2 separate regions of the Homo sapiens genome follow, and region 1 is linked to region 2. The links come from fine-mapping of genetic effects on gene expression. A gene starts in region 2. The other region holds a variant in brackets. All regions are shown on one strand. Distances are from middle to middle. Region 1 holds the start of CLTB (clathrin light chain B). Region 2 holds the start of KIAA1191.

Evidence for each region.
Region 1: its variant is fine-mapped to the expression of KIAA1191 in whole blood (TOPMed, PIP 0.97).

The regions. Positions count from the first base shown.
Region 1 is chr5:176,408,885-176,417,589 of GRCh38, forward strand. CLTB (clathrin light chain B) reads right to left here and starts at 7,655. Exons shown (of 6, transcript NM_007097.5): 1 at 7,293-7,655; 2 at 1,373-1,419. The coding sequence starts at 7,479. It also overlaps a transcript of ARL10 not described here. RefSeq lists silencers at 7,158-7,237, 7,348-7,447, 7,488-7,947. The variant G/A (reference allele first, on the strand shown) is at 5,678.
Region 2 is chr5:176,356,589-176,365,466 of GRCh38, forward strand. KIAA1191 reads right to left here and starts at 5,176. Exons shown (of 9, transcript NM_020444.5): 1 at 5,014-5,176; 2 at 3,223-3,330; 3 at 2,893-2,979. The coding sequence starts at 2,920. RefSeq lists enhancers at 4,932-5,251, 8,364-8,613 and a silencer at 8,764-8,878.

The DNA.
Region 1 (8,705 bases), 52 kb after region 2:
AATGCCCCTTTCTTATCCCCATCCCACCCCACCCTTGGGGCTAACCATTGTTAACAGCTGGTACACATCCTTTCAGATATGTAGTGCAAACCTTTAGTTTTATTTTTTTGAGATAGAGTTTTGCTCTTGTTGCCCAGGCTGGAGTGCAGTGGCGTGATCTCGGCTCACCGCAACCTCCCACTCCCGGATTCAAGCTATTCTCCTGCCTCAGCCTCCCAAGTAGTTAGGATTATAGGCTTGTGCCACCACACCCAGCTAATTTTGTATTTTTAGTAGAGGTGCGGTTTCACCGTGTTAGCCAGGATGGTCTCAATCTTCCAACCTCATGATCCACCTGCCTTGGCCTCCCAAAGTGCTAGGGTTACAGGCATGAGCCACCACGCCCAGCCCAAACATATTTTTAAAATTGAAAAAAAAAAAAAAAAAAAGGACCATACTGTGTATATTATTCTGCAAGCTGCTTTTTCCACTTAATATATTGTGGACATCTTTTCACGTCAATACAGGAAGATCTGATTGCCCTTTTTTTTTTTTTTTTTTTTTTTTCAGACAGAGTTTCACTCTCATCTCCCAGGCTGGAGAGCAATGGCACAATCTCAGCTCACTGCAACCTCCACCTTCTGGGTTCAAGTGATTCTCCTGCCTTAGCCTCCCGAGTAGCTGGAATTACAGGCACCTGCCACAATGACTGGCTAATTTTCTGTATTTTTAGTAAAGACGGGGTTTCACTATGTTGGCCAGGCTGGTCTTGAACTCTGACCTCACGTGATCCACCCACCTCAGCCTCCCAAAGTGCTGGGATTACAGGCGTCAGCCACTGCACCCGGCCCTGATTGCCCTTTTTAACAACAGCCTGGTTTTCTAATCTATCTATTCAGTTCCCTGATGCTGGACACTTAGGTTGTCTCCAAATTGTCTGCCATTATAAATAACCCTGCAAAGAATCTGGGTGGCCTTGTCCAATTATTTCCTTTGGGAAAATTCTGGAAGTGGAATCTCTGGATCAAAGGGCCCGCCCTGTGTGTGGAGATGGCCTGGGTTCTGCCTCCCGTCAGTGGTGAGGGAAGGCCTTGCGCTGCCTTCATCTCATGCTGCTGTGGGCCACTTGACCTCTCCCTCCCAAAACCAGACATCACCATGGGCAACCTGAGGCTACTGCCCATCAATCTCGATCTCTAGTGGTCCTTATTCTTCTTCCCTGCCCTCTACATGACAAAAAAAATTCCAAAAACCTTTCTCTATGTTTCCACCCCAATGCATCAGACATAATGAACAGGAGAACCTGGAGCTGTAAGCCTACAACAATGAGGCTTTAGGTTACTGAGACCAGGGCTGTTGGTCCTTACCACTGCTGAGACAGAGCCTTGCTTACCTGAAACACATCTCCATTGACTGTGGTCCCCATGTCCTCAGAACCAGCTGGAAAGAGAACAAGGAGATAGCATTACTCACTGTTTAGCTTATAGCAAGCAGGAAATGGTCCTACATTAGCCCCTCAACCCAAACTCTGTGTATACCCATGTATATATCGACCCACATGCAAACAGACATAATGGATATATATATAACTTAGGCTCAATCCCACCCCTGACTGTTTATAAAGCCTCTCACAGCCATTAGTACATTTTATGTTCACCACAGCCCTGCAATGAAATTGTTGTCAACCCATTTTACAGATACTCAAGCTGAGGCTCAGAGAGGCCATGCTCAAAATCACCCAGCCAGTAATAGCTCCTTACCTACCTGAAATCACTGACCCCTGGCCATGGCTGGGAATGGCCAGATTACCTGTGAAGCCTGTGCCTGGTGAGTAGGCTGAGCTGCTGTAAGCTCAGGGCAGGGGCTACACTGGATAAGGAAGAGAGGGGCCTACGCGTCTCTGCCTGTCCCTGAGGCGCCTTGAGCAACTGCTCCTCCTGGGTGAGCAGGAGTTGCAGTTCCCACCAGAAGCACCTGGCATATTTTTTCTCTTTGTGCCCCTCCCAGAAGGAATTAAGTTTGCCCTCAGCAGTGACTCCTCCCTGTCCCTTTCCTTGACATTTGATTAGTCACAAATTCCTGGGGCTTCTGCTACAACACTGACATTCACAGTTGCCCTCCACTCTCTCCCGCAGCTCAGCCCCAGCCCAGGACCTCACCACCTTGCACCTGCACAACTGCTTTGCCCGCTAGGGGCAAACACCTGGGAAGACATAACTGTGTCTCTTTCTCTTCTCCTGTGTCTTTCCCAGAGACTTGCATGCACCTGTGACTTTGCAGGTGCTCAATAATTATTTGTTGAATAAACAAGTAAATACATGCATGAAAGAAAGACAACGACTGCATGGCTTTTGCCCATTCACAGGCCCCCTTGACTCCAGCCTCTCCCATCCCTCTTTCAAACCAATTGCCAGGGCTGACAGTCTGTAAAACATGCACTTACCTGTGCCTCTCCTCTGACTCAAAATGTCATGAAAACAAACTCCAAAGAAATCCACTTCCCATGGACCACAGTGGCCTATAGCGCCTACTCCTGCCTTGGGGACTTTGCAGGTGCTGTTCCCTCTGCCTGGAAGGCTGCTCCCTCACTCCCTTCAGCTTCTGCTCAAATGCTGCCTAATTAAAGGCCTCCCTGACCACACCCCCATCCACCCCTTGGGCACCCCTTCCTATTCCTCCTGCAGTATTAAGCGCACTTACTACAGCCTGCTGTGTTTATTTGTGTATGTGTTTATTATCTGTCTTCCCCCAACAAACAGACCCTCCATGAGGGTGTGGACTTGGTTTCATCCATGATGAGGCCCACCTACAACAGTCCCTGGAACATAACAAGGACTCAATAAATATTTGCCAGATAAGTACATCTAACCCTGGAACATGAGGATCTCTACAATCTGGCCCTGCCCATTCCTGACTCACTTCCCACCAGCCCATCCCACAAACCCTAAATTCTGGTTTCCTCCTTCTCCAAACACACCACCCTCATCCCCATGCTTTCTTCCTGCTTCCCTCTCTAAAGAATGCTTTTTTGGGCCGGGCGTGGTGGCTTATGCCTGTAATCCCAGCACTTTGGGAGGCTGAGGTGGGCAGATCACGAAGTCAGGAGATCGAGACCATCCTGGCTAACACGGTGAAACCCCGTCTCTACTAAAAATACAAAAAATTAGCCAGGCGTGGTGGCAGGCGCCTGTAGTCCCAGCCACTCGGGAGGCTGAGGCAGGAGAATGGTGTGAACCCGGGAGGCGGAGCTTGCAGTGAGCCGAGATCCCGCCACTGCACTCCAGCCTGGGCGACAGAGTGAGACTCATCTCAAAAAAAAAAAAAAAAAAAGAATGCTTTTTTGGCTCCATTTATTCTCCAAGGTCCAGCTCATAAGTCACCTCCTCTGGGAAGCCCTCCTCTGCTTCCTTTACTTCCCTAGGCACTTACGGAAGGTCTCACTTCCGGGGTATCCCAGGATATCATACAGTATCCTGCACCCTCTTGTGCAATTACTCATGACCCCCAGGGTCCGTGTGTACCCCCTTACCAGGCTCCGTGTCCTATTCAGCTCCTCAGGGCTCCAGCACGGAATGGGTGAGCAGTAACTATTGGCTAAATGGAAGTTGAATTGTTGTTTTGAGGCCTGCTGTTATCTGCAAGGCTCTCAGAAACTGCTGTGCCTCCTAGCAAAAAGCCATGGAGGCCACATGAGGTTAATAGGCAGATGGACAAATAGCCCTTCACCAGCCAGACAGGGCTGTGAGCAGCGACAGTGTGTTTGGCCTGGGGACTCAAGGGAAGGGTACTTAATCCCATGGAAATAATCCCCGGGTGACATAAATCATAATTGACTTTGCTTTCAGAGTCAACCAGTGATTGATTCCAACCAACTCTGTCAGCTGTCACTCCCATTCCTTCAGATAAGGCTTCTCCTGCATGGGTGTCCTGGCCCCTAAATCACAGTGGGACCAATAGCATTTCAGTGGCAGCATCTTCTGCAAAGGGGCTTCTTCTGCTGGGGTGTCTCCTCTAGCAGGGCCTCACGTTACCAGGGTCTATTCCCTGTGATGCCGGTCTGTACATTTGGCCTTCTCGAGAATTTGCACCACCCTACTCCGCCCTGACCAACCCCAGTCTCAGACCCCACATCTACACACAGCTGCCTGGGGTCTACCCTGACCTTCAGAAAGTCTCTCTGCCTCAGCCTCGAGAGTGTTCCTCTGGACATGCAGTTTCGGCCTCCTTAAGAGTCCACACACACCTACACAGCATTCCAAGTACCTGTTCCCACAGTGCTCTCCACCCACCCACTGCCCATCTACCACCGGGAGTCCACACTCACAGGCCAGCAGAACAGGACTGAGACAGAGACACGTCCCAGGGATAAACCCCTGAGGGTTTGCTTCCCTCAGCTGCCTGACCCATTTTGGAACAAGGGCAGAGAGGGTCCAGAACATTCCTGTGAGCTTACGAGGCCCAGCGGGGGAAATGGGCTTGCCCAGAACTGACAGGCAAGTCAGAGCCAGGCCTGGTGCTCAGAAAACTGGGTGTGAAAATGGAAACCTACCCAAGGCTGATGAATGGAAACAAAGTGTCCATCATCCAGATCACCCAGGGCCACAGATCCAGCCAGAGAGGAGGGGCTCCCTGTGGCTCCAGCACAGGCCTACACCAGATACCTCTTTCCCCAGGGGCAACTGAGCCCAGTGTCAGCACAGAGATTGCTAATCTGAGGACCCCAACATCTAAGAGAAGGTGCCTCAGAGGTACTGACTGGCGGCCGCTGCTAAGCCAGCTTTTGCCCAGCTCTCAGCAGGCCAGGGCGCTTTTTCTCTGCCCCATCCAGGCTCCTGGCACACATCCCTGGTCAGGGGAAGATTACCTGTTCAGCACTGCATAGGCTGAGAAGGTCAGATCAATTCTAGCCCATCTGGCCATCCACTGAGCCGCCATCCCTCAACACCTCCCTGCTCCCCGATCCAACTAAGGAGGGCAGCTGAGCCTTTGCAGAGTCAGCAGGTATGCGCCTGGGAGACCCTCAGAAGGCTGTATCCCCGGCACCTCCCTGGAAGAAGCGAGCGTGTCATTGTTTCTCTCCCTGTCACCTCTGGTCTGAGGCCAATTTGTGCCCCACCCCTGCCAAGGACAGAACTTGCCATCCAGACTGTAAGTCCCTGGAGCCCCACCATCCTGGGAGAGGCCACAACCTGCTCAGCTCCCTCAGGCATCTGGCTGCCCTCAGCCTGAATCCCATCTTTTCTCTCCTGAGGTTCTCACAATGGCTCCCCTCAGCAGGACCTCCCCACAAGGCCTCCCTCCTCTTCCCTGCACCCCGACCCCAACAGGCCCCAGTGAGCCAGACTGAGGAAAAGGGTGGTCTCACAGAGGTGTGGTCCAGTGAATACTGGTGCATTAACTGGGGCAGGCATTTCTTAGGAATTCCCTGGGACACGGCAGATTCTGTATTGAGGTGCTGGAAGCTTCCACTTCAGAAGCCCTCCATTGCTGTCTCAGATAGGTGGCAAAAGACCCCATGCTTCTCACCCCACATCCTATCTCCTGCCAGGGAGGTGACTGCTATAGAATCTTTTTTTTTTTTTTTTTGAGACAGGGTCTCACTCTGCTGCCCAGGCTGGAGTACAGAGACGTGATCACAGCACACGGCGACCTACCTACACCTCCCGGGCTCAAGCTATGCTCCTGCCTCAGCCTTCCC[G/A]AGCAGCTGGAACTACAACTACAGCTACATGCCACCATGCCTGGCTAATTTTTGTATGTTTTGTAGAGATGGGGTTTCACCATGTTGCCCAGGCTCCACAGCATTTGAAAGAGCATGGAGCCCAGAGTTGGGAGGCGTGGGATCAAGTCCTAGATTGGTCATTCCTGGCTGTGTGACTCTGGGCAAGATACTCAGATTCTCTGGGCCACCGGTTTCTTGCATGTTACAAAAGCCTGGTTACATTTCTCATATCAAGGAGATACAGAGTTGCTTCAAACTCCTCAGCCACAGGAACTGTCTTATTCATTTCTGTATCCCCAGCGTCCTGACACACAGTAGGTGCTCAGTAAACGTTGAATGGATACAAACATGACTGTGAAGAGCCTTGTAAACATCATTAACCAAAATATGTCTATATGTATATATGTTAGCACTTACTACAACAGGCCCATAAACCTTTCCAAAATGACATCAACAGGAAGTAAAACCTGTTTTGGATGTACCCATGAAGGTGATATCTACTTTTTTACTAAATATTTTACAAAATCATTCTTGCTAGCCAGAACCAGGGCAGAAACATCATTGATAAAGATGATTTCACAGGGACTAGGCCCTGAACACTGAGGTCTGAAGCCAATCACAGTAAATCATAATAGCCCCGGACCACCTTTGGAAAACCATTAAGTCGACAACTACAAAACCCTGAAGGGCCCTACCGCATCTGACTGATGCCTCTTTGTGGCCCACACTCCGGTGTCTAACTCAGAGCCAGACACTTGGTAGGCAGTGTGGTCAGGTGGAGAGGGCTTCAAGTCCGACAGGAACAGGTTTAAATTCACGGCCAGGTGTGGTGACTCACACCTGTAATCCCAACACTTTAGGAGGCAGAGGTGGGAGGATTGCTTGAGCCCAGGAGCTCAAGACCAGTCTGGGCAACATAGCGAGACCCCATCTCAAAAAAAGGAAAAGAAAAAATATATATGTAAAAGAAAAAGAAACAGGTTTAAATTCTTGATCTGCCACTTACTAGTTATTTCAATAGCATACTCCCTTGAGCCTCAGTTTTACCATCTCTGAAATGGGTTCAATCACGTGTATGAAGTGATTAAATGTAACCAAGGCGCTTAGCCCAGCGACTGCCGAATGCCAGGCGGTCACCGGGGAAGGTTAGTGAGTTCCTGGAGCACCCAGGATCCTCTTTTTTCCCAGCTGCAGGAGAGAGCTAAGCCTGAGGGGCCAGGAGGGCTGTGTTCTGCCCACACCTGCACACTTAGCTGGGAGCCTGGGACACCCAGGCTATTAGGAGGCTCAGGAGGGACTCTCAAAACTGAGGTGGGGTTGGATTCCAGAGCCGGGCAGTGGGGAAGCTGGCCTGGGGATGAAATGTCATGACCGAATTCCTGTCCCGGGAGTCACCAGATCCACAGCCCCAGGCGAGGCCTCATCCCCAGCTCGGAAGTCCTACATGGAGATCTCCAAGAAGATTCTTCCCCACGTCTCCCAGCTCCTGCCCCGGGTGGCCTAGAGCAGGCTCTCTTCCCTGTGCCCCTGGGCCCCGGCCGGGGTCCCCCGGGTGCGCGCCCTGAGCCCCTCTCCAGGCCCCGCGCTGACTCACCCCCACTCGTGGGGCCCGGCTGCGCGGGGGCCGCATGGCTGCCGGCAGGTGCCCCGAAGCCCTCGTCGTTCTCTATGCCTGCAATCTCGCTCTCCTGCTGGGCCAGGAAGGCGGCCGCCGGGTCCTCCTCCGCCGCCTCCGGGGCACCGCTCTCCGACGACGAGAAGAAGCCAAAGTCATCAGCCATTTTCCCCGCGCCTCCGCCGGAGCCTCCGCTGCGCTCGGCTCTGCCCGCGCCTGCCCCGCGCTGCGTCCGGCGGCCGCGACGCTGTCACCCGAGCCGCGGGGGAGCCGGCGTCGGCGGGGACGGGCTTGGCGCGGACCGCACTTCCTCTCCGCCACCGGGCCCGGCTGGCTGTCACTGCGGTGCGGGCGCCGCGGCGGGAGGAGCGGAGCCGGAATGCGGTGACGTCACCGCGGGGGCGGGGCCGCAGGGCCGGGAGGTCGCCGAGCAGCGGCCGCAGGAGGGCGCCTCAGGACTGGGCGCAGCGCTGGGCCCGGGACCGGCGCGGCGCTTCCCTCCCTCCGCAGCGGCGCCCAGCTGCTCGCGTCGAGGACACCTGGGCTAGGCACTGCTCCCGCCCGGCCTGGAGGCGAAACGCAGGGCACAGAGTGGCCGTACCGTGCACAGAGCTGCGACAGGAGGCCACCTCTGGCCTCGGGAGCGCAGACCTGGCTCCTGATTCATTCTGCAGAAGTTTCTTCTCCTAGGTTGGGATGTCATGCACCTCATTCTATGAGCCTCCGCCTCTGTAAGAAGAGGAAAATTGAGGCTGGGAAAGGCTGCCCCGCACCTTTTCATGCAAGTCCAGGTCCTTTCCCACTAGGCCGTGTTGTTTTGTGTATTTTTTTGTGTATCTCCCTTGAGGAGGCTTCAGTTCATACGACCAGAGTTTGGATGGCCAGCTAGGCCCCTTAAATGTCCTTTAGGTATGAACCAGCCTGAGAAAGGCAGACCTGGTTTACCCAGGCAGCCTACCACTCTCCACGCTGCCCGCTGCCCTCTGTGAACAGGCTCTGAATGCCTCCTCCCTGCCTGCGCTTTGCCAAGCACCAGGACAGCAACGTTTTATAAAATCCAGCCATGGCCATGCGGAGATTACAATCCGGTGAGACCAACAGATGGCAAATGGCCTGTCAAAGCACTGTGTGTGAGGCGCTGTGACATTTAAACACGGGGTATAGGGAGACGATGCAAAGAAACACCATGGGATTTGGGCTGTCTGCTATTTCTAATGTGGGACTTGAAAGGCAACTATGAAATATGGACTGGAAGAGCGAAAGGAAAGATGTGCCGCCAAGTTGGGGGTGGAAGTGGAGTTGGGGTGAAGGGACCTTCCAGGTGTTTTTTTTTTTTTCTTTTTAATTTTTTTATTTAGAGACAGGGCCTCGCTATATTAACTGGGCTGGTCT
Region 2 (8,878 bases):
GCCATTCCTGTCCACTGGAACTGACGCCCAGCATGTCGGGTTGTGATGCAGCCACCCCATTCAAGGGCACTCTCAGCTGTGCCAGACCAGGGAGCCAAGTTCATTGTGTTTCGTTTGCTAATCCTTGCATATCAGAACTAATGTCCAGAACCTACCTGAAAGGTAACATTTTCCTGTGGCTAAAATCATATAATAACACTCTCTAAGACATCAACCTGCCTGGCAATAAGTCCAAAACCACAAAAGGTTTCATTTAAACGGCAAGGGGACCAAGCAGCTATCATTATTATTACTATTGCTATTAGTAATAATTAACAAAACCATAGAAATAAAAAGAGGATTAGAGGTTGCCAGGGAGTGGGTGGGGGGAGTGAGGATACGACTGCTAATGGTACGAGGTTTTCCTTTGGAGGTTATGAAAACGTACTGCAGTTTGGATGGGTGTGGTGGCTCACACCTGTAATCCCAGCACTTTGGGAGGCTGATGTGGGTGGATCACCTGAGGTCAGGCGTTCCGGCCTAGCCAACATGGTGAAATCCCATCTCTACTCAAAATACAAAAATTAGCCAGGCGTGGTGGTACGTGCCTGTAGTCCCAGCTACTTGGGAGACTGAGGCAGGAGAATTGCTTGAACCCAGGAGGCGGAGGTTGCAGAGAGCCAAGATCGTGCCACTGCATTCCAACCTAGGCAACAGAGCGAGATTCCATCTCAAAAAAAAAAAGAAAAGAAAAGAAAATGTGCTGCAATTGATCGTAGTGTTGTTTGCACAACCCTGTGAATATACTAAAAATCACGACATTGTTCACTTTCAGTGGGTGAATTTTATGATATGTGCATTACATCTCAAACACACACACAAGCAAATAATAATTACTAAGTCTTCCTCCTTGCTAGACAATTACATCCCTCATCTTATCTAATCCTCATGAAGCAGATATTCTTCCCATTTTCAAATTTTCCATTTTCACAATCAACTTGCCCAATATCACCTAGCTTGAAAGAGTGTGCTGGGAACTGGAACACAGACCTGAGCCGGTGCACACACTCTGCATGCAACACACTACAAAGCATTCACTGAATGGGCACAATCCTATGGCTCGCGACGGCTACACGGAGTTTGTGGTAATCACAGCAACAATGAAAGACAAACTAAAACGGAGCTGATGATGTTAAGACTAGAGATGGATCTATATTGGGGAATACGGGAGACTTGGGGAGCAATTTCAAAAACATCTTAAAGACTCCCACTGAACAGCCATCCTAAAACAAATAAAGTCAGCTAGTATTTACTGGAAAATATGTTCATATAAAGACAGACCAAATGCATTCTGGGCAGTAAATACATATTTATCACTGATTTTTAACTCCTGTTTTTACATATTTTGTTTAATCTTCACAACCCCGAGAGATAGGAACCATCATCTTTCTTCATCATCATACTTTACCGAGAATCAGAAATTAAGCGATTCAGATGTAATTAAAAATCACTTTCCTTTCTCATAAAACAATTCAAGTAGTCATCAATGGTGTCAATAACCCAGAACTTGACTCATTAAGGGTTGCTGTGAGCATTTTCATGATTAAGTTCAATCTGCCATTTAAGCAGGCTGGTGCCTTTTTACCAAGACTTCCATCCCACCTCCCCATCACCCCCAAAAAGGTGAGTTTAATCACTTTGGTACATACTACAAGAACTGCACAACTTATTCTGAATTATTATTTGATAACTAGGAAAGTAACAAACTTGTCATAATACCCTTAAATGAAGTGACTATTCTCTTTAAGTTAAAGTTTCATACTATGGCTGAGCGGCTAATAAAATATTTAAATGATGCCAATCTAAGGCTAGGCGTGGTGGCTCACACCTGTAATCCCAGCACTTTGGGAGGCCAAGGTGGAAGGATCACCTGAGGTCAGGAGTTTGAGACCAGCCTGGCCAACATGGAGAAACCCTGTCTCTATTAAAAATACAAAAATTAGCCGGGCGTGGTGGCAGGCAGCTGTAATCCCAGCTACTCGAGGCTGAGGCAGGAGAATCACTTGAGCCCAGGAGGCGGAGGTTGCAGTGAGCTGAGATCACACCACTGTATTCTAGCCTGGGCAGCAGAGTGAGACTCAAAAATAAAATAAAACTGGCTGGGCGTGGTGGCTCACACCTGTAATCCCAACACTTTGGGAGGCCGAGGCAGGCAGATCACAAGGTCAGGAGTTCCGCCGGGCACGGTGGCTCACGCCTGTAATCCCATTACCTTGGGAGGCCGAGGCGGGCGGATCACAAGGTCAAGAAATCGAGACCATCCTGGCTAACACGGTGAAACCTCGTCTCTACTAAAAATACAAAAAATTAGCTGGGCATGGTGGTGGGCGCCTGTAGTCCCAGCTACTCGGGAGGCTGAGGCAGGAGAATGGTGTGAACCCGGGAGGCGGAGCTTGCAGTGAGCTGAGATCGCGCCACTGCACTCCAGCCTGGGCGACAGAGCAAGACTCTGTCTCAAAAAAAAAAAAAAAAAAAAAGGTCAGGAGTTCCAGACCAGCCTGGCCAATATGGTGAAACCCCGTCTCTACAAAAAATACAAAAATTAGCTGGGTGTGGTGGCGGGCACCTGTAATCCCAGCTACTGGGGAGGCTGAGGCAGGAGAATGGCTTGAACCCAGGAAGCGGAGGTAGCAGTGAGCCGAGATTGTGCCGCTGCACTCCAGCCTGGGCAACAGAGCAAGACTCCATCTCAAAAAAATAAAATAAAATAAAATAAGCCAATCTAGTAAATCTAAATACTCGCTTGGTAGCAGAGATTAACCATTAATATATAGTTCCGATAAAATGGTTTCTGTCTAGCTTAAAACATTAATAAGGGCAAAACATGATTTTACCAAAAAGAATTAAGTTTACCAGGCACTTCTGGTTGTCTTGAAGCCATTGAAAGACTGGGATCCAGGTGCTTTTTCTATACAGAATTCCGAGCTGAGTCCCTGCCACCTAATAAAATAACAAAGGGCATTTTCTTATGGTGAGCAGCACCAATGCTGTTCTTCTGGCAGGCACACAGAATTGAACGGCTTGTTTACAAGGTTGAAACACACATGCAAGAGCCAGTGGGTGACAAACATGCCAATGAAAAAAGAAGGATAAAGTCAAACGTCTCACCACACCTGTGGCTGATCTTAACACCTGTGAGATGACAGAGCTAAGATGCCATACATGGTGAAAAAGTCACCTTACCACAGTGAAATGATGTGATGACTAAGCGGACAGACAGATGTTAATGAGGAACATGGTCCAGCTGCTGCAAAGTAGCAAAGCTTCCCAGGAAGAGTCCATCCAGAGGTTCTAATAACAACAAACAGCCAGCATTGGAACAGCCCGTCAGAGTCTGCCAAACACTTGTTTATTCCCCACAACAACCTTGCTCATTTCATTTTCTTAACTCACAGCAAGCGGCTAGATACTACAGTAGGGAAATTTGTTCTTTATAGCTAACACTATAAACTATTTACAGCGTTTATCTTGTCTTTTAATCCTTGCAGCAAGATGGCAAAGCAGATATTATTTATCCCAATCCCAATTTTTTTTTTTTTTTTTTTTTGAGACGGAGTCTCACTCTGTCGCCCAGGCTGGAGTGCAGTGGCGCGATCTTGGCTCACTGCAAGCTCCACCTCCCGGGTTCACGCCATTCTCCTGCCTTAGCCTCCCAAGTAGCTGGGACTACAGGCGTCTGCCACCACGCCTGGCTAATTTTTTGTATTTTTAGTAGAGATGGGGTTTCACCGCACTAGCCAGGATGGTCTTGATCTCCTGACCTTGCGATCCGCCCACCTCGGCCTCCCAAAGTGCTAGGATTACAAGCGTGAGCCACCGCGCCCGACCCCAGTTTTTTTTTTAAGCTATCTCTTACAGAAAGGCTATCCCAAATTTAAAGAGAAGGAAACTGGCCGGGTGCGGTGGCTCACGCCTGTAATCCCAGCATTTTGCGAGACCCAGGCGGGCAGATCACTTGAGGTCAGGAGTTCGAGACTAGCCTGGCCAACATGGTGAAACCCCATCTCTACTAAAAATACAAAAATTAGCCGGGCATGGTGGCGGGCGCCTGTAATCCCAGCTACTCGGGAGGCTGAGGCAGGAGAATAGCTTGAACCCGGGAGGCGGAGGTTGCAGTGAGCCGAGATCGAGCCACTGTACTCCAGCCTGGGCGACGGAGTGAGACTCGGTCTCAAAAATAAAAATTAAAAAAATTAAAAAAATGTTAAAAATAATAATAAAGAGAAGGAAACTAAAAATCAGAGGAGTTAAGTAAATTTGTCCACGGTCACAGATAAGTGGTCCGTGCGCAAGGTAGGTAGTTTCATGCCCAGTTTACAGGGGAGTTAAAACGAGGGCCTGAGAAAGTTACTCTTGTTTTTCAGCTTGCTACACCGTCCCTCTATCCCGATAGGACTCAGACAGAGCAAACAAGTTATTGATAGTTCTTCACTAACGAGCATCGCAAAGGCCGAATTCAGCCATCCTCCCAGTCCAGGGAGCATTCCCGCCCCAGACACGTCCCCTTCCCCTTTCCCTTTCCCTGTGCCCCCACCCCCCAGCTCACCGTCCCTCTGCCTCTCCTTCACAATATACAAGACGGTGCCGCCAGGATACGAAAGGCCGGCTGCTTCACCCACCCCTCCAGGCTAAGATTAGGGCCAGGACCCTAGCCGAAGGCGGGGTGTGGGGAGATGAGGTTGAGGACAAGCCGCGGGGGCTCGGGCTGGGCTGGTCCCACGAAGCGGAGGGGAAGCCCGTACGGGAGCTGCAGGGCATTCCCGGAGAGAAGCCCCATTACGGAGACCCCAGAGAGCGGAGCCAGGGAGGCAAGAGGCGACCCAGCCGAGCTCGAAGCCGGGATGAAGGGTTAAGAGGTGCGGGGAGAGGGGAGTGGCTTGGAGGGGCCCCGAGATCGGGCCTCGCCGGAAGCGCCCCTCCTGATCGCCAGAGAACGCAGCCCCAAGGGAGGGCCCAGGCCCGCCATCTGTTCACCTGTGATCCTGCTGCCGCGGGACTGCCTGCGGCCCGGAGTCCGGCACTAAAAAGGTTCCGAGGGCCCACGTCTCCCGAGAGGCTGTGGCGCAGTCTGGACCCAAGCCATTGTGAGAGCGGCGGCGATTTCGAAGGTCCCCAAGACCCACTAGGTAGCAGTACCACCCAGCGGGCAGGCAGCACTGCAGATAAAGCCTCCGGAGACCGCGGGATCTCGCGCGAGACTTGGCCCAGCGGAGCACAGGGCATGCTGGGAGTTGTTGTCCACGATCGCGAGACCCGCCCCCTCCCCATGCCCTTCGCCGCCCAGCGAGTTGTGGAGCCGCAGCTCCGAGTGTGGAATCCGCCAGCCCCGAGAGGAAACGCCACACTTCACCACCACTTCCTCAGCGCGTGTGCTGTGCCTGGGTCCGTGACAAGCTAAGGGAAGACGGAGGTAGCATAGTAAAATGACACCCACAAACCCAAGCCCTCAAGGCTCAAAAAGGGCTGCCAAGTGCGAGCACTTGTCATCCTGTTTTTCCCACTTCACGGAGGTGAAGCTGAGACTGGGAGAGATGAGAAGTCACTTCGATTAGCAAGCGGTGCAGTGAGCACGGACTGTCTCCCAAAACAGCGGGGTTAGGCAGGGTTCGTACTAGTAGCTGAACCAAAAAAGGGAACCGACCTCACCTGCCTCCCCTAGGGAAGGCGATCCTAATATCATTTCTCTTTTACATAAAGGAGAGTGAGGCTTAGAGGCGCCAGCTGAGGTGTCAGTCACATCCTGAAGGAAGACTTCTCTTATCCCTGAAGGGTTCACAAAGAAGGCGAAGCAACGAAGTTACAGCAGAATTTGCAAAAATCTATCCACGTTTCTACCCCAGTCCAAAGCTCGCCATCAAAACTCATCTCAGGAGAGCTATGATTGGTGGTGCAGGGTGAATGTCACATTTAGATTTCAGCATTTGAGGCTTCCAGCCGTACTGGCAGAACTGAGAGGCCTTGCTCATGCGACTTGAAACTTAAGCGCTGTTTCCAGACCAGGGTGCTTGAGTGCACTAAGAATTAAAGTCTTTGATGAATTCTATAATTAGCTTATCAACAGCACAATTACATTGCAGTATAATTGTGTGTATATGTGTGCGTGCGTGTGTGTGTTAAAGGTGTTCCTTTGTTAATTTGGAGCTTTTAAAATATGCCATATTTTTTAACCTCTGTGGAAGCAAAGCTGGCACCTTGCTCTTTATCCACCACAGGAAGGGATGTATATCACCTCTCAGTCAGAAAAGGAAGAAATAGCACTTTGCACCCTTATGTAGATCATAAGGTGGGATCATCTCATTTATTTCTTAGCCACAAATACATGAAAACTTAAGACTTTCCTGGAAGTTACTATTTGATTAAAACAACTTTTTCTGGCTGGGCACGGTGGTTCAGGCCTGTAATCCCAACACTTTCAGAGGCTGAGGCGTTCGAGACCATCCTGGCCAACACGGCGAAACCCCGTCTCTACTAAAATACAAAAATCAGCCAGGCGTAGTGACAGGTGCCTGTAATCCCAGCTATTCTGGAGACTGAGGCAGGAGAATCTCTTGAACCTGGGAGACGGAGGCTGCAGTCTGCCTTGTCCTAGGTACCCCCAGTGACTGCCAAGGCTTCCACGTGTGTAGCACGAGGAGGAAGAACAGGAGAAACGACCTGAGTACAGCAGTCGGGTTCTTTTGGCTCTCCAGAGGGGTGACGCCATGTACGGCTGGCTGTAGGGTACATGGGTTGAGAGACCGCCTGTGGCTCTCAGGGCCCAGCAGGGCTACCTCTTTCCCTTTATATTGTCTCAACTCTTCACCTCCTTTTAGTTCGCGATTCCTCTGTACCCCTGGCTCTGGGTCCCAGCCCCTATTCCTTCTGATTTGTCCCCCTTTCCCTTTGACTACATATATATGCTCCTCTCCTCCCAGATAGTGATGTTTTAGCTACATCTTATTTCTTCCGGCATTGATTCTTTTGAAAAATTTATTTCTGGCTGGGTGTGGTGGCTCATGCCTGTAATCCCAGCACTTTGGGAGGCCTGAGATCACACTACTGCACTCCAGCCTGGGCTACAGAGTGAGACTCCATCTCAAAAAAAAAAAAAACTTTATCCCTGATATTTGTGGTACCAATGTCTGAAGCTGTCATGGTCTTGGTGCATAGCACCTATGTGAGAGCACCTATTTCTTTTCCACAAATAATAGACTGTAAACATTTTTTTTTTTTTTTTTTTTGAGACAAGGTCTCGCTCTGTTGCCCAGGCTGGAATGCAGTGGCGCAATCTCGGCTCACAGTAACCTCTGCCTCCCAGTTTCAAGCGATTCTCCTGCCTCAGTCTACCAAGTAGCTGGGACTACAGGCGCCTGCCACCACGCCCGGCTCCACGCCCGGCTAATTTTTTGGATTTTCAGTAGAGATGGGGTTTCACCGTGTTAGCCAGGATGGTCTCGATCTCCTGACCTCGTGATCCGGCCGGCTGCCTCGGCCTCCCAAAGTGCTGGGATCACAGGCGTGAGCCACCGCACCAGCCAAACTTTTAATCTTAGCAATTTTGTGGGTTTTCCCCTCTAAGTGGGTGTATTTTTGAGGAGGAGCTAATTTTTTTTTCTTTTTTTTTTTTTTTGAGACGGATTCTTGCTCTGTCACCCAGGCTGGAGGGCAGTGGCGCAATCTCAGCACACTGCAACCTCCTCCTCCTGGGTTCAAGCGATTCTCCTGCCTTAGCCTCCTGAGTAGGTGGGATTACAGGCACGTGCCACCACGCCCGGCTAATTTTTGTAGAGATGGGGTTTCACCATGTTAGGCAGGCTATTCTCGAACTCCTGACCTCAGGTGATCCGCCTGCCTCGGCCTCCCAAAGTGCTGGGATTACAGGCATGAGCCACCACACCCGGCCAGAAATAAATTTTTCAAAAGAATCAATGCCGGAAGAAATAAGATGTAGCTAAAACATCACTATCTGGGAGGAGAGGAGCATATATATGTAGTCAAAGGGAAAGGGGGACAAATCAGAAGGAATAGGGGCTGGGACCCAGAGCCAGGGGTACAGAGGAATCGCAAACTAAAAGGAGGTGAAGAGTTGAGACAATATAAAGGGGAAGAGGTAGCCCTGCTGGGCCCTGAGAGCCACAGGCGGTCTCTCGACCCATGTACCCTACAGCCAGCCGTACATGGCGTCACCCCTCTGGAGAGCCAAAAGAACCCGACTGCTGTACTCAGGTCGTTTCTCCTGTTCTTCCTCCTCGTGCTACACACGTGGAAGCCTTGGCAGTCACTGGGGGTACCTAGGACAAGGCAGTCAGCCCTAAACATTCTGAAGTCCTGACACTGCTTAATTCAGCCTGACCAGGACCCCAGCAAAACCCCTGTGGTCCGGGAGGCAGCGAAAGAAGGCTAGAGGTGGCGGGGAGCCACGGACCTGGGTTCTATTCCTGCCTCTGCCACCCCACTGCCGTGTGATATCGGGCGTCTTGCTTCAATTTCCTCCCGAGGTCTTGAGGGATGACCGGGAGACAGATCGCTTGGGTTTGAACGCAGGCTACACCAAAGCACTACGATGCGGCGTTGGGCGGGTTACTTAACTCCTGGGCCTCGGTTTTCCCTTCTGCGTGGTATCATTGTAAGGGGTAACGGAGAAAAGCCGTGAGCTAACCCCTGGTGGATGCTAGCAAGCACCGCCGTCTCCCGTCCTCCCCAGGCACAGCCTCTCCTTCCTCCACCCTGCACCTGGCAGGGGGACCGGAGGTCCCCGCGCGCCGGCCAGCGCCCCACCACCCACGCCGCCGGGTCCCGGGCGGCCTGCCGTGACAGCGGCAGTGCATTGTGGGGCTTGTAGTGCGGGACTGGGTCTGGG